Regions from separate parts of the Homo sapiens genome. Here region 2 is linked to region 1. A link means that fine-mapping ties the variant in region 1 to the expression of a gene that starts in the linked region. Tissue or cell type: whole blood. Region 1 holds a variant in brackets; the other region holds the start of a gene. All regions are shown on one strand. Distances are between the middles of the regions.

Evidence for each region.
Region 2: it holds the start of SIMC1, and the variant in region 1 is fine-mapped to the expression of SIMC1 in whole blood (INTERVAL, PIP 0.94).

What each region holds. Positions count from the first base shown.
Region 1 is chr5:176,080,921-176,089,256 of GRCh38, reverse strand. It overlaps the pseudogene FAM153B. Among named protein-coding and RNA genes, the nearest start is that of THOC3-AS1, 110 kb to the right of the region's middle. The variant T/AT (reference allele first, on the strand shown) is at 4,185.
Region 2 is chr5:176,235,350-176,243,685 of GRCh38, reverse strand. It overlaps SIMC1 (SUMO interacting motifs containing 1), which reads right to left and starts at 5,262. Exons shown (of 10, transcript NM_001308195.2): 1 at 5,049-5,262. The coding sequence starts at 5,177. RefSeq lists silencers at 5,301-5,420, 5,471-5,590.

The DNA of each region.
Region 1 (8,336 bases):
GGCTAAGCCCCCACACCACTGCAAAAAAGGCAGAGTTCACACAGGGTGGCACACAAATGCACTGCTGATTTCATGACAGTGTCCCATCACCCCCTTGTGCATTTTGAGGCCCGGTAAATTTCTTTTGTTGTTGAAATGTTATAATGTCATTTATCTTTCCTTGATCTACATATGCTCCTCCTGTACTTATCATCCATTTAATTGGCTTTAAAATCAGTATTGTGGCCAAAATACATCATATTTATTATTTTAATAATCAAGTGCACACTTCAGGGGCATCAGTGCCATTCACAATTCTGTGCAGTAAACTAAATGTAATCCAAATCCAGATGTCTTACTTTCCACCTTAGGAAACTAGAGAAAAAAGTGTAGTGTAATGTAAACCAGGCAACACTCCTCCCCCAAAATATAACAATATTTGCAGAAATCAATGTAATAGAAATAATAAAATAAAGAAACTCAACAAAACCAAAAGCTGCTTCTTAGAAAAGATCAATAGAATTGGTAAACCTCCAGCAAGGCTAATCACAAAGAAAATACAGAAGACACGATGTACAAACAATATGAATAGAAGAGGAATTATCCTTGCTGATCCCATAATCATTAAGAAAATAATAACAGAATACTTTCAACAAATCTATGCCTGCAATTTTTTAAGTGCAGGAGTGAAAGTCTATTGAAAAGTTTGAGAGTAGGAATGACAGGAAGCACAGTAGCCTTTGATGAGAACCAAGCAGGCAACTTGTCAGATTCAAGTGTCTACACCCACAAATTTCCTAGCTTAGATGAAATGGACAAATGCCTTCAAAGGGAGAAACTACCATAACCACCCAAAGGAGAGATAGATAATCTGAGTAGGCCTCTATCATTATAGAATTTAATCAGGAAGTAATAACTTAAAAAAAAATGCCCACATAATTGTACTGGTGAATTCTGCCTAACACAATGGAAAACATAGTCTTACCAGCAAGTGATCAAAATTCTACATATTTACCCAGCTAAATTAGAAAATTATGTTCATCTTAAAATCTGCACAAGAATGTGGGCAGCTTTATTCATAATTACCCAAATTGGAAGCAGCTCAGATGGTCTTCAGGCAGTGAGTGAACCAACTAACCCTGTTCGATGAAACCAATGGACTATTGTTCACTGATAAGAATTATTAAGCTGTTAAGCTTCAAAACGATACAAAAGATCTTACATGTATATTGCTAAGTAAAATAAGTTAGTTATACGTAGCTACATACTCTATGATTCCAACTCTATACAATTCTGGAAAAGGAAACCTATAGAGGCAGTAAAATCATCCATAGTTGTCAGGAATCCTCAGAAAAGGAGAGGAATTAGTAGATGCAGCTCAGGTCATGTGTAGGATGTGAAATTATTCCGTCAGGGTGACAAAAGACATTGTCAGTTTGTCAAAACCCATAGGCTGGACAACACAGAGTGAACCTTGATGCTAACCCTAGATTTCTGTTCATAAGAATGTATCACTATTGGCTCAGTCACTGATGCTAACCTTGGACTTCTGTTCATAAGAATGTATCACTATTGGCTCAGTCATTGTTACGAGCGTTATCACACTCACAAAGATGGGATCACCAAAAAATACTGAGGAAGGTGGGTATATGGAAAGTTTTGTTGCCACTTCCTCCATTTTTCGGTTACTTCCAAACAGTTTGAAGTGATGTCCATTACTTTACAAACCTGGCAACACTGTCTCAGAAAAAGATCCTTTTTAATTAATGTTTTAACAATCAGCAAAATGTCTACAATTTGCACTGAGATGTTATTTACTATTAAAAGTAAACCCAAATCTGGAATGGAAATACACCTTTACTCCTCTGGTTGTAGCACTAGTGATTGACTTAACACATTTAAATATGCACACATGAAATAAAGAATATAGCATCGCAATTTTATAATTGTCTGAAATATGAGACACTGAAGAATCTAGAAATCATATCATGAATGAACTGAATGACTGAATTTCCACAACACCTTCCATTGATGCAACTCTAGGGTATATATGGCCGGGATGCCAGTGATACCAGTGATAGGTGATTGGCTTCTCACGCTCGCGGTGGCAGACGGTGGATTCCCCTGGCATCCTAGGATACACTATTTCATCCTCGCCACAACACACTGGGAAATGAATTAAAATAAAGACAGGTGTTGGTGTCTTGCCGCAAAAGATCAGAGAAATGAGTAATTATTTATTCACAGCTTAAATGTTTGATTCCATTGTTCATCATCTGCAGAGCAAAGCCCCCTGAATCTGAGTTGGGCTTCAGAAAGACTTGCACTGTGGGTTGCACGTATAAGTGTGCAGGCAAATGCCTGTATTGAGATGAGACATTACAGAAAGGTAGTAGATTGGAGTGACCAAGAGCATAGGGTCCGGAGCATAGGATCTGAGCTCAGGGACTTCTGAGAAGCTGCTAGAACCTGAGGAAGTTCTATAGATCCCTCTGTGCCTCCTAATGGCCTACGTTATGTTAAAAGGGTAAGAATAGTTAAATGGACCTAAAGCCTTAAAACGGGTGCTTCCTAAGTGCCATAAAGTGTTCAATTATTTCATGTCTGGAAGAATAAGCCAGGCCCTTGGTAGTGGTTAATAGAGAAGCCACTTGGGGGACTCCAGGGCAGTGGAGGCTAAAATTCTTTTCATTCTTGACATGGGTCTCATGCTTTAGAACTCGTGAAAAGTTTTTGTTTGAATTTCCTGTGATGCCCACATAGGCCCAGAGAGATGGGCAGAGCAGGGGCTGCCACTCAGAGGTGACGGTTCAGGGAAGTGAAATGAAGAGATTTGAAGCGACCTGCCTAGGGTCACAACACTGACGAATGATAGATCTGGGACAAGAATTTGGCTGGTTTTCTGGGGACAGAGATCCCTGAATACCTGAGGCCTCTAAATCATGGCCTGGACCCTGAACCTGGAGCTCTTTCCACTCCCTTTCTCAATCCTCCTGCACCAAGGGCTCTTCAGGAAGGTTGATGTATTTGGAAGAGGTGGTGAGTCCAGAAAAAAGCCAAATCATTTAACAAAACAAAACTCCTGTCTCTAGGTTTTAACTCCTGGGCTAAAATATGGCACTTTCCTGCAAACGAAGCCTCTCTGAGGAACAAATTCAAATGTCTGGTCATCCTACCCATTGCCCTGTATTGTCAGCTGTCTGGCAGTGAGCACCCCTCCATGACCAACTGACCACAGCAAGGGACCAAGTTCTGCTTGGCCCCCAAGGTAGTTCGGAACTTAGGACCTTCCAAACTAACTACCACTTGATGGCTGTGCCAAGAATAAACTTCCCTTCAACTGAACCATTCTGAAGAAGCAATTAATGGGAATTAACTGAAAATGTGGCCCCCCAGTGGATTTTTCAGCAGTTTATTCTGTATCTAGTCTATGAAAGAGTGTGTGTGGCGGGGGAGGCCGGGTGTGGTGGCTCACACCTGTATCCCAGCACTTTGGGAGGCCAAGGTGGGCAGATCACAAGGTCAGGAGTTCAAGACCAGCCTGGTCAATATGGTGAAACCCTGTCTCTACTAAAAATACAAAAATTAGCCAGGCATGGTGGCAGGCACCCGTAGTCCCAGCTACTTGGGAGGCTGAGGCAGGAGAATCGCTTGAACCTGGGATGCAGAGGTTGCAAAGAGCTGAGATTGTGCCACTGCACTCCAGCCTGGGTGACAGAATGAGACTCTGCCAAAAAAAAAAAAGAAAAGAAAAGTCCAGGCTCTGTGGCTCATGCCTATAATCCCATCACTTTGGGAGGCCAAGGAAGGTGGATCAGGAGGTCAGAAGTTCAAGACCTCCCTTGCCAACATTGTAAAACCCTGTCTCTACTAAACATACGAAAATTAGCCAGGCGTGGTGGCGGATGCCTGTAATCCCAGCTACTCAGGAGGCTGAGGCAGGAGAATTGCTTAAACCTGGGAGGTGGAGGTTGCTGTGAGCCATTATCACACCACTGCATTCTAGCCTAGGCAACAGAGCAAGACTCTTCCAAAAAAAAAAAAAAAAAAAAAAAAATTGGCATTGGAAGCAGTGTATTTTCTAGAGAAAAGTATTTGAGGCAAAAATCTTGATAGAAGAATAAAAAAACACAAATTGAGTAATAAAACTCTGAAACATATTTATAAATCTGTAGACAAATAGGAGCTGGGGAAATAAAAAAAAA[T/AT]CAGAATGACATTTAACGTACAGGAAAACTGGCTTATCTGAAGAAATTGCAGTCAGAAGATGGAAATGAACATACATACCTTCGAGGCAACAACTATAAGCACATCCCATTGTGAGTCCTCTGAGACAACTAAGCTGCGTTTACTGCCAACGTTCAGTTGCCAGAATGGCAGTTAAAATGAAAGGCAAGACCTATATCATCAGATCACCTCAGCAACAGGTCACAGTAGAATTTTCGCAAGCATCCATGTCACAATATGGGGCCCAACTGCTGTGATCTAGACCAGTCCATTGTCACATCGACAAGGGGTCACTTAGACTCCATGTTTCATTTCAAAAACTGAATCTCAGACACACAGTATTATTCTATGTGTATGAAACAAACATTAAAGGAGGAAAAAGATTTGCCTCTCAAATATATTTGATAGTGAAAATTTCAGGGTAAAGATAAGAAAAGCTAATACATTGAGAATAAAGGGAGATTCCAGGCTTGATGTGAAATGCCTTCCCCACCAATTTCTACTATTCCTGAGTCACCAGAGAGTCCTAGCTTCAACAATTCTAAACTAGCTCCAAATTACATTTAAAATGCATTAGTGTAACTTCAATTTTAAAGCCAATCTCTAACAATATAATTCATAGTAATAAAAAAAGATATGATTCAGTACAACTTTCCATCACTGTTGATTCATCACAAGTTTTAAGAACTATTAAATCAAATGGGTCATTAATGAGGCACAAAAACTGCATTAATAGGGGGTGGAGCCAAGATGGCCGAATAGGAACAACTCCAGTCTGCAGCTCCCAGCATGAGCGATGCAGAATACGAATGATTTCTGCATTTCCAACTGAGGTACCAGGTTCATCTCATTGGGGATTGTAGGACAGTGGGTGCAGGACAGTGGGTGCAGCGCACTGAGTGTGAGCCGAAGCAGGGCAAGGCATTGCCTCACCCGGGAAGTGCAAAGGGTCAGGGAATTCCCTCCCCTAGCCAAGGAAAGGGATGACAGACAGCACCTGGAAAATCAGGTCACTCCCACCCTAATACTGCGCTTTTCCAATGGTCTTAGCCAACGGCACACCAGGAGATTATATCCTGCACCTGGCTCGGAGGGTCCTACGCCCATGGAGCCTCGCTCATTGCTAGCACAGCAGTCTGAGATCAAACTGCAAGGCTGCAGCGAGGCTGGGGTAGGGGCGCCCGCCATTGCCCAGGCTTGAGTAGGTAAACAAAGTGGCTGGGAAGCTCTAACTGGGTGGAGCCCACCGCAGCTCAAGGAGGCCTGCCTGCCTCTGTAGACTCCACCTCTGGGGGCAGGGCATAGCCAAACAAAAGGCAGCAGAAACCTCTGCAGACTTAAATGTCCCTGTCTGACAGCTTTGAAGAGAGTAGTGGTTCTCCCAGCACACAGTTTGAGATCTGAGAACGGACAGACTGCCTCCTCAAGTGGGTCCCTGACCCCCGAGTAGCCTAACTGGGAGGCACCACCCAGTAGGGGCAGACTGACACCTCACATGGCCAGCTACTCCTCTGAGACAAAACTTCCAGAGGAACAATCAGGCAGCATCATTTGCTGTTCCTCAATATTCGCTGTTCTGCAGCCTCCACTGCTGACACCCAGGCAAACAAGGTCTGGAGTGGACCTCCAGCAAACTCCAACAGACCTGCAGCTGAGGGTCCTGGCTGTTAGAAGGATAACTAACAAACAGAGAAAGGACATCCACACCAAAACCCCATCTGTATGTCACCATCATCAAAGACCAAGGGTAGATAAAACCACAAAGATGGGGAAAAACAGAGCAGAAAAACTCAAAATTCTAAAAATCAGAGTGCCTCTCCTCCTCCAAAGGAACGCAGCTCCTCACCAGTAACAGGACAAAGCTGGATGGAGGATGACTTTGACGAGTAGAGAAGAAGGATTCAGATGATCAAACTTCTCCGAGCTAAAGGAGGAAGTTCAAACCAATGGCAAAGAAGTTAAAAACCTTGAAAAAAGATTAAATGAATGGCTAACTAGAATAACCAATGCAGAGAAGTCCTTAAATGACCTGATGGAGCTGAAAACCATGGCATGAGAACTATGTGACAAATGCACAAGCCTCAGTAGCCAATTCGATCAACTGGAAGAAAGGGTATCAGTGATGGAAGATCAAATGAATGAAATGAAGCGAGAAGAGAAGTTTAGAGAAAAAAGAATAAAAAGAAACAAACAAAGCCTCCAAGAAATATGGGACTATGTGAAAAGACCAAATCTATGTCTGATTGGTGTACCTGAAAGTGACGGGGAGAATGGAACCAAGTTGGAAAACACTCTGCAGGATATTATCCAGGAGAACTTCCCCAATCTAGCAAGGCAGGCCAACATTCAAATTCAGGAAATACAGAGAATGCCACAAAGATACTCCTCGAGAAGAGCAACTCCAAGACACATAATTGTCAGATTCACCAAAGCTGAAATGAAGGAAAAAATGTTAAGGGCAGCCAGAGAGAAAGGTCAGGTTACCCACAAAGGGAAGCCCATCAGACTAACAGCTGATCTCTCGGCATAAACTCTACAAGCCAGAAGAGAGTGGGGGCCAATATTCAACATTCTTAAAGAAAAGAATTTTCAACCCAGAATTTCATATCCAGCCAAACTAAGCTTCATAAGTGAAGGAGAAATAAAATCCTTTACAGACAAGCAAATGCTGAGAGATTTTGTCACCACCAGGCCTGCCCTACAAGAGCTCCTGAAGGAAGCACTAAACATGGAAAGGAACAACCGGTACCAGCCACTGCAAAACCATGCCAAATTGTAAAGACCATCAAGGCTAGGAAGAAACTGCGTCAACTAACGAGCAAAATAACCAGCTAACATCATAACGACAGGATCAAATTCACACATAACAATATTAACCTTAAATGTAAATGGGCTAAATGCTCCAATTAAAAGACACAGACTGGCAAATTGGATAAAGAGTCAAGACCCATCAGTGTGCTATATTCAGGAAACCCATCTCACGTGCAGAGACACACATAGGCTCAGAATAAAGGGATGGAGGAAGATCTACCAAGCAAATGGAAAATAAAAAAAGGCAGGGGTTGCAATCCTAATCTCTGATAAAACAGACTTTAAACCAACAAAGATCAAAATAGACAAAGAAGGCCATTACATAATGGTAAAGGGATCAATTCAACAAGAACAGCTAACTATCCTAAATATATATGCACCCAATACAGGAGCCCCCAGATTCATAAAGCAAGTCCTTAGAGACCTACAAAGAGACTTAGACTCCCACACAATAATAATGGGAGACTGTAACACCCCACTGTCAACATTAGACAGATCCACGAGACAGAAAGTTAACAAGGATATCCAGGAATTGAACTCAGCTCTGCACCAAGCAGACCTAATAGACATCTACAGAACTCTCCACCCCAAATCAACAGAATATACGTTCTTCTCAGCACCACATCGCACTTATTCCAAAACTGACCACATAGTTGGAAGTAAAGCACTCCTCAGCAAATGTAAAAGAACAGAAGTTATAACAAACTGTCTCTCAGACCACAGTGCAATCAAACTAGAACTCAGGATTAAGAAACTCACTCAAAACCACTCAACTACATGGAAACTGAACAACCTGCTCCTGAATGACTACTGGCTACATAACAAAATGAAGGCAGAAATAAAGATCTTCTTTGAAACCAACGAGAACAAAGACACAACATACCAGAATCTCTGGGACACATTTAAAGCAGTGTGTTAGAGGGAAATTTATAGCACTAAATGCCCACAAGAGAAAGCAGGAAAGATCTAAAATTAACACCCTAACATCACAATTAAAAGAACTACAGAAGCAAGAGGAAACACATTCAAAAGCTAGCAGAAGCAAGAAATAACTAAGATCAGAGCAGAACTGAAGGAAACAGAGACACAAAAAGCCCTTCAAAAAATCAATGAATCCAGGAGCTGGTTTTTTGAAAAGATCAACAAAATTGATAGACTGCTAGCAAGACTAACAAGAAAAGAGAGAAGAATCAAATAGAGGCAATAAAAAATGATAAAGGGGAGATCACCACCGATCCCACAGAAATACAAATGACCGTCAGAGAATACTATAAACACCTCTACACAAATAAACTAGAAAAACTAGAAGAAATGGATAAATT
Region 2 (8,336 bases), 150 kb before region 1:
AGTCAAGCGTGGTGGTGTGCTTGTAGTCCCGGCTACTCGGGAGGCTGAGGTGGGGGAAATTGCTTGAACCTGGGAAGTGGGGGTTGCAGTGAGCCGAGATCGCACCACTGCACTACAGCCTGGGCAACGCAACAGAGCAAGACTCCATCTCCAAAAAAAAAAAAAGTAAATCAAATCATGTCACTGTCCTGCTTAAACCTTCAAAGATTTCTTACTGTATTACAATAAAATCCAAATCCCTTATTGTGGTCTCCAAAGCCCTATAACCTAACCTACCTACTTCTCATCTCTTCTGACTCTGTCCATCAGTCGTTACATTGCAGCCTCACTGGCTTTCCATTCTTCCAGTAAGTCATGCTCATTCCCGCCTCCAAACTTTTGGTTTTGTTGTTCCCTTTGACAATGCCTTATTCATCTAGATCTTATAACTAATTTGTTGTCATTTTAGTCTCAGGTCAAATATTAACTCTTCAGAGAGGCCTTCTCTGAAAACACAATCAAATGTTCCCAATCCCACCAAAGTTACTATTATACTGTTCTCTTATTTGTTAGTTTGTTTACTGCCTATCTTTCCACAGTAGAATGTAGTTCCATTATCATCTTGTTCACCTCTGGTCCCCAGGGTTACAGCATATGCTCAATAAATATTTATTGAATAAATGAATCATAATAAAAAAATAAAAAATAATGACATCTTATGGAATCTGGCTATCAAACAGCAAAGATTAAAAGAACAAAAATACCGTATTTTTTCCCCTAACACTCTGTATTATCACCTGACATTACATTTATAGTGTTGTTTACTATCTGTGTCCCCTCAGTAAAATGAAATCTCCATGACGGCAGGGACTTGGTTTTCATAGATGTATTCCCAGCACCTCTAAGAGTGCCTGGTATATAATAAGTGTTCAATAAATATTTATGGAATAATGTAACAATACCTAGGGGTGACTAGGCAGCAGAGAAAGAGATATGATTGGCCATATACCACTGGTAAGAATATTAATGCACAATTTCTGTAGGAAATTTGGCAATACAGTTGATTCATGAACAACACAGGTTTGAACTGCATGGGTCCACTTACAAGAGAGTTTTTTTCAATAAATATATTGGAAAATTTTTTGGCGATTTATAACAATTTGGAAAACTCACAGATGAACTCCACAGCCTATAAAAATTGAAAAAAACTAAGAAAAAGATATGTCCTGAATGCATAAAATATATGTAGATACTAGCCTATTTTATCCATTTACTACCATAAAATCAACACAAATCTATTATACAAAGTTAAACTTTATCAAAATTTATGCACACAATCACTTACTGACCATAGATGGTGACATCTGCAGTTGACAGAAATGTAAAGATGCAATATTAACTCACAACTGCATATTTTTAAATTCATTATTTTTTTCTTTTTAATTTGTATCACAACTGCATAAAATTTACCATAGACTACACTGTACTACCGTGATAATAATGTCCTACTACCACAGACATCTGCTGCTGCTGTGGTGGGCTCAAGTGTTGTGAGGATCCACTTAAAACGCCACGTGACACTAATCAATTTCTGCACTACTTCCCAGTAAACTGTGTATCACGGTAACAAGTGTTCTCTCCTGGGTTTTTTTCCACATATACTTGTTTAATCATGTGTAGGGTAATATCGTAAACCTTGAATAACACCATGAAACCCATACAAAGTGCTTAGTGATGCTGGATGTGCTCTCAAGAAACAGAGAAAAGTCATGACATAAGAAAAGCTGAATCGCTTGAGATGTACCGTAGATAGAGGTCTGCAGCTGTGGTTGTCCCCTATTTCAGACAGATGATTTATCTTGTAAACAGACGATGTAAACCTATGGTATTGACAAATGCAGTATAGTACTGTAAATGTATTTTATCTTCCTTATGATCTTAACATTTTTCTCTTGCTTACTTTATCGTAAGAGTCCATATAACATACAAAACATGAGTTAACTGCTTATGTTACTGGTAAGGCTTCCAGTCAACAGTAGGCCACTGGTAGTTAAGTTTTCGAGGAGTCAAATGTTACATGTAAATTTTCAACTGCACGGGGGGGTTAGCAACCCTAATCCCCGTGTTCTTCAAGGGTTAGCTACATATAAAGTAGGGCACACCTTTTGACTCAGCAATCTAACTTCTAAGAGGAACTTAATAAACAAATGAACAAGAGTACAAAGATTATGAGGGAATTTTTCACTGGGTTCTTAGAGAAAATTTAGAAACGAAGGCATAATATCCATTAAGAGGAGGTCATAAAAACATGTATGGGGAGGACACATAGGTATGTATGTATGCACATGTGTGTATGCAAGTAAACATTTACATAGACATACATCAAAATGTTAACATTGGTTATCTTTGGATAGTGAGATTACGGGCAATTTTAATTTTCTTCTTTATACATTTATAAAAATTGTATAATTAGATCAACAAAATTAACCATCTGAAAATGTTCTGTTTTTATAAGTAAAAAAACGAAAAACAAAAAATCCCAAACGAAAAAGCCATGATAAACACAGAAACACACCTCATCGACTCAGTGAAGACTAAAGCCCAGGTTAAGAATCAAGAGTTCAGAAATGTCAACTTCAGCATTAGACATGGCTTTCTCAAGTTCAAGCAAGTTACTTCCCCTTAGTCAATATCTATTAAAAAAAAAAAAAAAAGATGTAAAAGTTGCTTCTTTTATTTCATTGCCTGTGAAGCTCAAGAGGGACAGGCCTGGGCTTAGAAACAACACAAAAAGTGGCAAAAGCTATCATTTATATGAGATCCTTTCCTTGCATTTGTCTCATTAAAAATTTAAAACCATCCTGCTAGGTAGGCATTAATGTTCTCAGGCTCAAAAGCTGAGAGTTGACAGAACTTTCCAAAACTCAAATAGTTGCTATGCTGGAGATATTGATTCAGAAGTCTCTCTGACCTCAGAGCCTTCAGGAAAAGCTACAAAGAAAAGGGCACTTTTAGACTTTATAACCTTGCAAGTCTCTCAATGCCTCTGATCTTTTACATGGTTATCATACCACTCTTATCTAATTTGCAAAAAAGATAAAACGAGAATAAGCTTGGAGCTTTTAGAGAGCTGGAATAAATATCTGGAGAAGCACGATTTAAATTGGGTACTGCTCTCTGGAACTTGCCCCTCATTTCGATTCAACTCAAAGGCTCAAGATCAAAATGCTTGCTTGAGTGGTCACAAGTGAGGGAAACAGTGAGAGACTACGCCCATGTACGTATGTGAAAGACCACAAAAGACTGAGATAAGCATGGCATCTGACCACTGAAGAAGGAAGCTGGACCAGAATGAGGGAAAATGGACAACACTTGGGAGGAAAGGAAGCAAGTGGGAAGGACAAAGTTAAACAGGTAGTGAGAGAAGAGGCTATAGGAATGAGGAGGAACTAGGAGGAAAGAAGTATTTTTTCCCTTCCACCTTTTTTCTCTCTCTACTCTTTTCCTTGATGATCTCAGTCACTATTAGGCCTTCAATACTCCTTTCTGTTTGCATGATTGCCAAATATCTCCATTCTTGCCTTTTCTCCAACTACTGAGCTGGCCACATCCATCTACATTTCCTATTAACACTGTAAATCCAACAGGTCCAACCTGAATTCAGCATCTCCTTCATCTCAAGCCTGCTGCTACTTTTATATGCACTTCTCTTATACTTATCAAACATCCATCTAAACCATTCTCTCTCCCCATATTCTTTCAATCGTTCCTTCATCCAACAAATACTTATTGTGCATCTATTATGTCCGATACATTCAGCCACAGCCCTAGATATATCCATTCACTCATGAAGTCGGGTCATTTCTATCTTGGAAATCTCTTCTCTCACTACCTCATGAGCTGCCTAACTCAACTAAATTTGTCTCTAAGACGTCCTGAGAAACCCTCTTGCTTGAAAAATAATATATATTAACTAGTTTTGCATGCTATTCATTCTATAGTGATCATCTAGCACTTGGCACTGTACCTCGGGCACAGAAGGGGTTCCCAATGGAGGTTTAGGGACTGTAAACCAGCTAGAAAGGGAACAGGGGCAGCAGAAGCTAGGAAACGTCTTGAACGAGTATTTGCATAGGAAGCATGGTAAACTGTATGATCTATACACATAACATCAGCTTGATAATCCTTGTGTTTCCGGGGGATGGCTCTGGGAGGCTGGGGAGATCGTTGGAAGCCTTCTGAGAGAAAGCTCCACCTCCCACCGCTTGAGTAGGTCCTCAACAACCACCTGATGATGTATCACCTTCTGAGGGGACCATGGATATTGTGTTCGCCGTTGTATCCCCGGCCCCTACAACATCTGGCTCATAGTAGGGATTCAATAAACATCGATGCAGGATTCTCGAAAGGCAGATAATTCACCACCTCATGAACGACAAAGACGAAGGGGTTCTGAGGGAAACAGAAATAGCGCGCGAGGTTTCCTTCCCTATTCCTTCAGGGCTTGGTACAGGGTAAGTGCTGAGGAAATAAATCGCCCTCCTGTACAACTCCAAAATCGGGCCCCTCGCTCTGCAGTCAGGCCCTGGAGCGCGGCCACCATCTGGCCCAGGCCCGCGCTTCCCTCCCTCCCAGCCTGGGCTCCTGTTACCTCCCTGCACACATCTGTGTCCACCACAGGCCGAAGAATTACGCGCTCCCGCTTTCCTGCATCGGCCCGGCCAGTACACCCGAGCCCCCACGTCCCGCCGAGGCTCCGAGGACGCCCGCGGCCCCGGCCTGAGACCCCAGCCCCTGCAGCAGGCGCGCCAGGAGCTCGTCCATGTGCTCGGCCGCTTTCCAGCCGCAGTCCTCTCGGGCTTCAGCGCTGAGCCTGGGAGGCCCGGCCTCCCCGGTCCCTGCCCTGGCCCCTGCCCCGGCCCGCCGCGCTCCCCGGGGCCCGAGAGGCCCGGAAGGAGGCAAGGCGGGAAGTGGCTGCAGCTGTGAGGCGCCAGGGGCGGGAAGCGGGCGGCGGGCCCAGCCGAGGGTCGCGAAGACGCGCGCCCCCAAACGAGGCGACGCTCACTCACCACGGTCCGGCGGGGCAGCGCGCCGGAGGTTCGCGACAGGGCCCGGCGCGGCCTCCGCGACCGGCCCGGGCGGGCGCCCCCGGAGCTCTCAGAGCCGCTGTCGTCCGAGATCACGATGAAATCCTCCATGGCTGCGGGCCCCGACCGAAGACCCAGGCAGTGGCGGCGGCGGCGACGACTTCGGTTCCTGCTTCTGAGGTGGCGGCGGCGGGGCGGCGGCAGCGGCGGCGGCTACAACCCGGGCCACCGCCACGCCGGCCCCGCCCCGAGCCCCGCCCCGCCGGGCCGCCAAGCCCCGCCCACCGGCGGCGGGCGGCTGGGGTCAGGGCCGGGGTCGCTGTGCTTCGTGGCGGCGCGGGTCCTCCGTTTCCCAGGAGGAAAAAAAAAAAGAAAAATGGAGTCGCAGCCGGCTTCGGCAGGTGTTGGGGCCAGGCGTGCGAGACGCCGAGGCCGCGGGGACTTCCCCACCTGCTTCCAACCGACGAAAGCGTGAAGTGAGGCGCGCCCAGTCCCACCCTGCCCAGGTGTGAAGCGCCTCCCGGACTGAGAGGGCCTTGACTGAGGGGCAGGGAGAGAGGTCCTGGCCCCCGAGTGACCGAGGGTAGGTGACCTGGCTTCTGGCCGAGCTAAGGGAGAGAGAGAGACCCCACTTTTTGGTGCACACGCCCATGTGTATCTGTAGGATAAATGCCTAAAAGCGGACTTATTGGGGCAAAGGCCATGTTTTTGTAGTTTTGATAAATGATGCCAAATTACCCTCCTAAATTGTACCAGTTTGCGATTTCACCAACAATATGTGTCTCTCAGGAGTTTAAACTGAGATTTAGAGCAGGGGTGTCCAATCTTTTGGCTTCCCCAGGAAGAAGAATTGTGTTGGGCCATACATAAAATACACTAATGATAGCTGATGACCTAAAGGAAAAGAGTTGCGAAAAAAAAAATCTCTTAATGTTAAACAGGGAGTTAAACAAGTTTGACGTAGACAGTTGTTCAGTTGGTATCAGGATCAGAAGCTGAAAAGGTGCACAAAAGAAGCCATGAAGTAGCAGAGGCCATGAATAATTAGATGTTGTGAATAAGCAGAAGTTATAAAGGTGAAAAAGGTTGTCCCCAGTAGAGGAATCGGTGGGTAGTTGGCTGGTTGGTTGGTTTTAGGGCAGGACCATTAAAATCAAGATAGGACCTATTGGTACACTAAATGTGGGGTATTGACAAAATCCTGCTGCTCAGGCTCCAGAAGTTTTGCAAAATATGTTAACAGATCCAAAGAATAATGTGTTTAATAGGAGGGGAATTTGTTCCTAAAGGAATGGTTATCAGGTGCTCTCCAAGCACTGTCTAATGCAGTGTTTTTCACACTTTGGTGAGCATCAGAATCCCCTAGAGTGTTTGTTAAGACAGATTGCGGCCGGGTGCGGCGGCTCACGCCTGTAATCTCAGCACTCTGGGAGGCCGAGGCGGGTGGATCACTTGAGGTCAGGAGTTCGAGACCAGCCTGGCCCACCTCGTCTCTACTAAAAATACAAAAATTAGCTGGGCATGGTGGCAGGCGCCTGTAATCCCAGCTACTTGGGAAGCTGAGGCAGGAGAATTGCTTGAATCTGGGAGGCGGAGGTTGCAGTGAGCCGAGATCGTGCCATTGCACTCCAGCCTGGGGGACAGAGCAAGGCTCCATCTCAAAAAAACAAAAACAAAAAACTCAACAAAATACAGATTGCTGGGTTGCTGGTATGGTTTGGATCTGCGTCCCCACCCAAGTCTCATGTTGAATTGTAATCCCCGATATTAGAGGTGGGGACTGGTGGGAGGTGATTGGATCATGGGGGTGGTTTCTTATGAATGGTTTAGTACCATCCCTTTGGTACGGTCCTTGTGATAACGAGTTCTCTTGAGATCTGGTTGTTTAAAAGTGTGTGGCACCTCCCACCTCGCCCCTTTCCCCATGTGATGTCCACTCCCCCTTCGCCTTCCGTCTTGATAGTAAGGTTCCTGAGACCTCCCCAGAAGCAGATGCTACTATGCTTCCTGTACTGCTTGCACAACCGTGAGCCAATTAAACCCCTTTTCTTTATAAATTACTCAGTCTCAGGTATTTCTTTATAGCAATTCGAGAATGAACTAACAATCACACATCAGATTTTCTGATTGAGAAAAAGAATTTTGGGGGTGGGGCCCTGAAATTTGCATTTCTAACAAGTGCCCAGGTGATGTGGATGCTGCTAGTCTGGGGACCACACTGTGAGAACCACTGGTCTGGTGGACGGGGAGTTTATGCCCAGCAGATTTCAGACATTCTGGTCCAATGGGTGAAGTCACCCTTGTGAAAGGATTCATTAAGTTGTCTTCATCTAAAGCTATTAAACATTTAGGGTTGTGATCTCTCACACCTGTAATCCCAGCACTTTGGGAGGCCGAGTTGGGAGAATAGCTTGAGGCCAGGAGTTTGAGACTAGCCTGGGCAATATAGCAAGACCCTGTCTCTACAAAAATAAAAACAAATTAGCCAGGTGTGGTAGCGCATGCCTGTGGTCCTAGCTACTCAGGCAGCTGAGGCAGGAGGATCCCTTGAGCCCAGGAATTGGAGGCTGCAGTGAGCTATGATACTGCCCCTACACTCCAGTCGGGGCAATAGGGTGAGACCCTGTCTCAATAAAACAAAACGAAACAAAATACACAACCATTTGGTGTGTCTGACTACCTGCTTGCTGAAACACTGTCTTCTGTAGGTTTCTGTGATGCTGTACTTCTCTCACCACTTTTTTTTAGTCTCCTTAGCTGACGCCTACTCCTCTACTCACTCCTTAAACTCTTGATGTCCCTTAGAGTCCTGACATTGGCCACCTTTTCACACGGGACCTCTTCCCTCTACAATCTCAACTATTCCCTGGCTTCAGTGATTGGTTTTATGCCAATGGCTGCCACGAGTTTATCTCAGCCCAGTCCTGTCCTTAAAACTCCAGTTGTATACATCCAAACATCTGCTGAAGCTCGTAGGCCTCTCAGGTTGAATATGTCTAAAGCCAAACTCACCTTTATGCTCCCCACACCCACAAAAAAGCCTGCTCTCTTTGTGTGTCTTATGGTGATGGCTCCACCAGCCAGCAATTGCTGAAGTGAAAAACCTGAGCATTGCACTTGATCTCTCCCCTTTCCTCAACAAGTCCTGTCTGTTTTACCTCCTAAACATCTCCTGCATCCCTCTACTTCTTTTGGCCTCTGCTGCTGATTCTAGCCAAGCTCTGGCCTACTCTACTGTGGCAAGACACAAGAGTGTTCAGATTGTATCTT